2 separate regions of the Homo sapiens genome follow, and region 2 is linked to region 1. The links come from fine-mapping of genetic effects on gene expression. A gene starts in region 1. The other region holds a variant in brackets. All regions are shown on one strand. Distances are from middle to middle.

Region 1 (2,913 bases):
AAAGGAGCTGATTAAGGTGTTAATTTTTGGCTATTTGATAAATGTGAGAAAAAACCTGTAGGCAGTTAAGGTGGCTTCTAGAGCATTGTTTTCCAGTTTTTTTAATGTATACCCCAATTAAATGTTTGTTTAGAAGTGAAATATGTTACTTCTGCCAATTTGAGTATTCAATGTGTTATTTTAAATGGAACACATCTGTATGAAGTATGATTTGTTCTGAGAGGTCTTCAGAATCAAATGGCTTAATAGTCCCCTTTTGCTTAATTAATGTCCCGGAGAGGCATTTAAAAGTATAATTGAAGATCGGATGCAGTGCCTCACACCTCTAATCCCACCACTTTAGGAGGCTGAAGCAGGTGGATCACTTGAGGCCAGGAATTCGAGACCAGCCTGGCCAATACGGTTTAACCCTATCTCTACTAAAAACAAAAATGAGTTGGGCGTGGTGGTGCATGCCTGTAATCCCAGCTGTTCAGAGGCTGAGGCGGGAGAATCGCTTGAACTCAGGAGGTGGAGATTGCAGAGAGCCGAGATGGCACCACTGCACTCCAGCCTGGGTGACAGAGTGAGACTGTCTCAAAAGGAAAAAATAAAGTATAACGGTAATGTTTTCTCCGCTAACCTTAAAGATTGATTTGAGCACCTCACTTTGAGGACCATAGTTCCAAAACGCTGTTCAAGTAGAAGCCTAGAATTCAAGGGAGGACACTGTAAGGAAGACCATGGACTAGTTGCACTGGAAACAGTAACAAAAGTAAAAATTAAGCTCACATGTATGTGATGATGTAGGTAGGGATTTCCGCAAGGAGTGAGTGCACGAGATAATCCCTGGGGACCAAGGATTCCTTCAATTTAATGGGCAGTTCTTGAGGCTTTGCAAAGTTTGATTGCAGGTGTGAAGACAGTGGTAAGGTGGACAGCAGAATGAGGAAAAAGATGTCCAGGGGCGTGGGAGAGGGAATGGGGACAGACATACTGGCAGTGATGGAGAAGTTGGGAAGAGGTGATTTAGAAGACCGTGAGCCGCAGCAAAGGATCTGCTTATTGCAGTTGCGTCCGGTGTTGTTCCTGCTCCGCTTTTCTGATTTCACCCTTTCTGGACTCTGTCTTCGTCTCCTGCCACGCCTCTTAACATTCTAAGTCCATGTAAATGACATTCTCACGTTAAGGGCTGCAAAGAAATTGCTGAGGAGCCAGGTAAACAGGCTTTGATTGCAATTGCAATCAAACCTCTGTAGCAAATCGTACAATTAAAACACCCGCAGGCAGGTGTGGGCGACGCCAGCAGCACACGGGGAAGCTGGGCACGTGGGGCGGAGGCAGCTGCCTGGTTTCCATGTGTGCGCCCTTTAAGACCCGGCGGCGCGACGGAAGCGCGTGGGCAGCACGTGGGCAGCACGTGATAGCGCTGGGCGACTCCGCGGAGCTGCACGGCCATGGACGTGGGCGCCGACGAGTTCGAGGAGAGCCTCCCTCTGCTGCAGGAGCTCGTCCAGGAGGCCGACTTCGTGGGTGAAGAGCCTGGGATTCGCGGCTGTGCCGGACAGAGCCCCTTGCCCCGGGCGAGCTTGAGGAGGGGGTGGCGGGACGGTTGCCAGGCCACAGGGCCTCAGAGAGGGCCTCGGGAAGGACAGGGGGGCTTCCTTCTCCAGCCCCGGGGCGGTGGGACTTTGAGCAGCAAGTACACTCCGAGCCCCACGTCCCTTGTTGGCCAGAGCCCCGTGCGCCCAGGTGCCTGGCTGCTCCTTGCCTTGGTTCCTCCATTTTCCCTTCCTGACCTCACTTGGCTTCTTGAGCGCAGAGGTGAGCGCGGGTGCCTTGGCCGCCTGCAGATCTACAGTGTGAGGAGTGCTGGCGATGTTCTGCACCCGAGGACTGCTATTTTTTGCCTTCCTGGCAGGTCTGGACATAGAGTTCACGGGCCTTCGTTCTAACCTGTCTGGGCCCCAGCAGATCAGGTAAAACTAAAGCTGTGTCCCCTCTGTATAAGAGCCTGGCCAGACCAGCACTGTTTCTGGCCAGCAGCCTGTTGGCATTTGGGGGGCAGGACGTTTTGTGTGGCTTGCTCCTACGTGTTGGAGGACCTTGCTTTTTTCTGTCCACTAAATGATGGTAGTGCTCCCTAGTTGTTGTAACAAGGAAAAAATCCTCCCCGGTTGCGAGTGGTGGTCCTGCCGCGGAGGCCATAGTGCCGGGATGGGATGTCATTGCTCGTGGAATGAGATGCCTGTTTGTTCACAGTCTTTTTGATTTGCCATCGGAGTGGTATCTAAAGACCCGTCAGAGTGTTCAGCAATTTACAGTCTGTCAGATTGGTGAGTTTAATATCAGCTGTTAGAGTTTTTCAAGAAGGTATTTTTATTGTCCTTGGATTTCCTACTGTAAAAACAGCTCTGAGATTTTTCAAGGATATTGAGTATCGTTTTGTATGCTTGTTTTGTGTTGGGCCATTGTATACATATGGAAATCAACACTTCGGAGCAAACCAAATTTAGCAGCATTGTTTCCGTGCTTAAATAAGTCAGTATTAAGGAACACTCACTGTTACTCTTTCAAGTAAAACTGTGTGTGTGCGATTTTTATTTTATTTTTTGAGACAGGGTCTTGCTCTGTCACCAAGACTGGAGTGCAGTAGCATAGTCTTAGCTCACTGCAGCCTAGACTTCCTGGGCTCAAGTGATACTAGCACGTCAGCCTCCTGAGTAAACTGGGACTACAGGCTCACCACCACACCTAGCTAATTTTTAAATTTTTTGTTCAGATGGGTTTTCGTCATGTTGGCCAGGCTGTTCTTGACTTCCTGGGCTCGAGCAATCTTTCTGCCTCTGCCTCTCAAAGTGATGGAATTATAAGCGTGAGCAACCACACCTGGCCTGTGATTTTTTTTTCTTAAGAAAATTTACACACAAAAAT
Region 2 (2,913 bases), 85 kb before region 1:
ACCTTCACCACGAACCCCTCCCTGCCTTCCGTGCTCAGCATCGTGGCGACTGTTGAGCTCTTGGTGGCAAGTTTGGCGGAATGCAATTTTGGTGTAGTGGGCAATTATCCTCCTTCTGCCTTCAAATGGGCTATAGCAAGATGACAAGCAGAACTACTTCTGCTCACATAAGCAAGTGATCACATGAGCACACCGGCTTTACCTCTAATCTCTGCTGCCATCTGACTTCTCTGTGCCTCTGCTGTCCCATCTGTCACATAAGACTAATACAGGCCCTCACCTCCCTAGACGTCGGGTTGTGAGGACCAAAGAAACATCATCTCTGCCTATACCTTTTCCTCTATTCTTTTTTCCCTCCAGAAACCCAATGACCTTGGACTTCCCTGAGTCCCACACTGGCTGACATATTACATACGGATTCTTCCCTCCAAGGGAAGATAAGCCTAGCTTCCATCGGGAACAGACCCGCACATTCCATCAGTCCCTTCTCCTGACTGTACACTCCCTACTTCACTCCCCAGGCAGGGCCTGGGTAGTGAACTTTTAAGAACCAACACTGATTTGACTTCCACCAGCAGGCTCAGCAGCACAGCCTCTAGATGTTTTGCTCGTTTCATCGCCAGGCGGTACTCTTTCCCACGGTACTATAAAGCAATTCCTGTTTTTCACTTTGTTGAAAAGGTGTGCCAAATGACTGCAATTCTGTGTGCCCAGATTATGATAAGCCTACCCTGGTGTCCTGCCTAACTAATCACATCACAGCCCACTGGCATTTTCATCAGAAGCCTTTGCTTGAGTGGATGGGGGTAGGCTGCAGATTCTTCTCTGTTGTCTGGCTGGAGTAGAGCAGTTACTGTCTAAAGGTTTTCTGTCTTGGTAGACTGCCTCCTTTCTTGGACCTTTAGTTATACATAAGAGGCTTTTGCTGGTGGCTGTTTTTGTCTGTGCTTGTTGATGTGTACAGATTGCTGGCTTCTGGGATATATGAGGCAAAAATGAAACACAGGGAGTCATTCCTGTGTCAGTCCTTGGGTCCTGAAGTCCATAGCCAGTTTGCCTTTCAGTCTTCTTCTGCTTGTTTTACATATAATATTCAGGATTTTTAGCCATACTTGGTGAGAGGAACATGGAAAAGTATGTCTAGTCCATTTTCCCAGGAGTGGAAATTTCCCAGACTTGTGTTTAGAAAGGGCTTGTTGTGTAGGAGAGAGTTTGGATGGGAAGCAAAGATGGGTGGCAGAGGACCAATTGGGGGGCCACTGTTAGTCGACAAGAAAAGCTGAAGACCTGGATTGGCCAGTGGCACTGGGACCCAAATGAGTGGGATAGAGAAAACTATTTACAGGTTAAGAAAAACAGGGAAGAGCAACAAAAACATGTCTAACAGGAAGTCAGTGTGGTCAACAGTAGAACCATTGCTTAAGGCCCAGTGCTCTCCTCTGGCAGAAGAATGGATTTACAGTTTGTCAACAGTCACATAGTTTTTGAATGGACTGTCTCCTGTCCTAGTGGGTCTTTAATTTGTGGGGAA[C/CA]AAAAAACCGTCCTTTTAAAAACTGAAGAGATTTGACTGAAGGTTTGACCAAACAGGATCTTACCGTTGCATCCATAAGGTTAAACACTATTAGCAAGCAACAGAGGCAAACAGAATAGTATTTTGAAAAGTTCTGAATATAGGCCAGGCATGGTGGCTCACGCCTGTAATCTTAACACTTTGGGAGGTCAAGGTGGGAGAATCACTTGAGCCCAGGAGTTTGAGACCAGCCTGGCCAACATGGTGAGACTCCGTCTCCATAAAAAATGCAAAAATTAGCTGGGTATGGTAGTTCACACCTGTAGTCCCAGCTACCTGGGGGGCTGAGGTGGGAGTATCGCTTGAGCCCAGGAGGTGCAGGCTGCAGTGAACTGAGATGACACCACTGGTCTCCAGCCTGGGCAACAGAGCTAGACCCTGTCTCAAGGAAAAAAAAAAAAAAAAAGTTCTGAAAATAAAATCCTTCAAGACCCTTATATTTTTATTGTAGTTAGCTTTTTGTCTTATAAAAGTTTGGTTTTCTGGAAATGAATAATGACTTTTAAATTTTTGCTTTATTGTGAAACAAGGGCTATGGACATCATAATGTAAAAACAACAACAATAAAGCAAAGTGTCACAGAAAAACCTAGTTTTGCTGGCACCTCTCCATTTTATTTCACTTGCTGATCATGTAAATGCCCTTCCTCTCTAAGTTAGAATGTGTTTGGCTATGGGTAACAGGAATCCTGATGAACAGTGGTTTTAAATATAAGGACATATCTGTTTTACCTAATAAAAAGTACAAGAACTGGCAGTCCCTTGGTGAGTCTGGAAGATTAACAAGGTCATCCCGGACCCAGGGACTTTCCATTCTTGACTCTGAATTCCCAGCAGCCTGCTTTCATTTTCCAACTTGTTGCCTCATCGTCACAAGATGTTTCCTATAGGTGCAAGCAGCACAGCCTCTCACAGCCTAGTAAGAGACAACAAGGAAGGGAGGGGGAAAACATTTCACCTCATGTGCCTCTCCCCGGAAGGAAAATTTTTCTCAGAAGCCCCGAGAGATTTCCTCTGATCCCAGCCAGAACTGCTCAACTGGCCAACTCTGCCTGCAAGAAGACTGAGCACCATCACTATGTGGTAAAGACCATGACAGCCATGCTTGCCTTAGACCAGCAGTTCTCATCAAGGGCATGACGGGAGGGGGCAGTATTGAAAATATAGAAAGGGACACTTTCAGCTGTCACATATACAGAGAGGTGCTATTGGCATCTAGTGGGTTGGTGTGGGGATGCTAAATGTCCTAAAATGCACAAGATACTTTTCACACACACACAAATTGTCTTGTCCAAAATTCCAGTAGCACACTTGTTGAGAAACACTGGCTTACACCAGCCATAA

Evidence for each region. PIP is the estimated chance that this variant, and not a neighbour inherited with it, causes the effect.
Region 2: its variant is fine-mapped to the expression of PNLDC1 in esophagus mucosa (GTEx, PIP above 0.99). The same link has a PIP of 0.9 or more in thyroid and tibial artery.

Annotation. Positions count from the first base shown.
Region 1 is chr6:159,798,872-159,801,784 of GRCh38, forward strand. PNLDC1 (PARN like ribonuclease domain containing exonuclease 1) reads left to right here and starts at 1,405. Exons shown (of 19, transcript NM_001271862.2): 1 at 1,405-1,512; 2 at 1,901-1,958; 3 at 2,242-2,315. The coding sequence starts at 1,437.
Region 2 is chr6:159,713,945-159,716,857 of GRCh38, forward strand. It overlaps a transcript of SOD2 not described here and the pseudogene HNRNPH1P1. Among named protein-coding and RNA genes, the nearest start is that of WTAP, 12 kb to the right of the region's middle. The variant C/CA (reference allele first, on the strand shown) is at 1,532.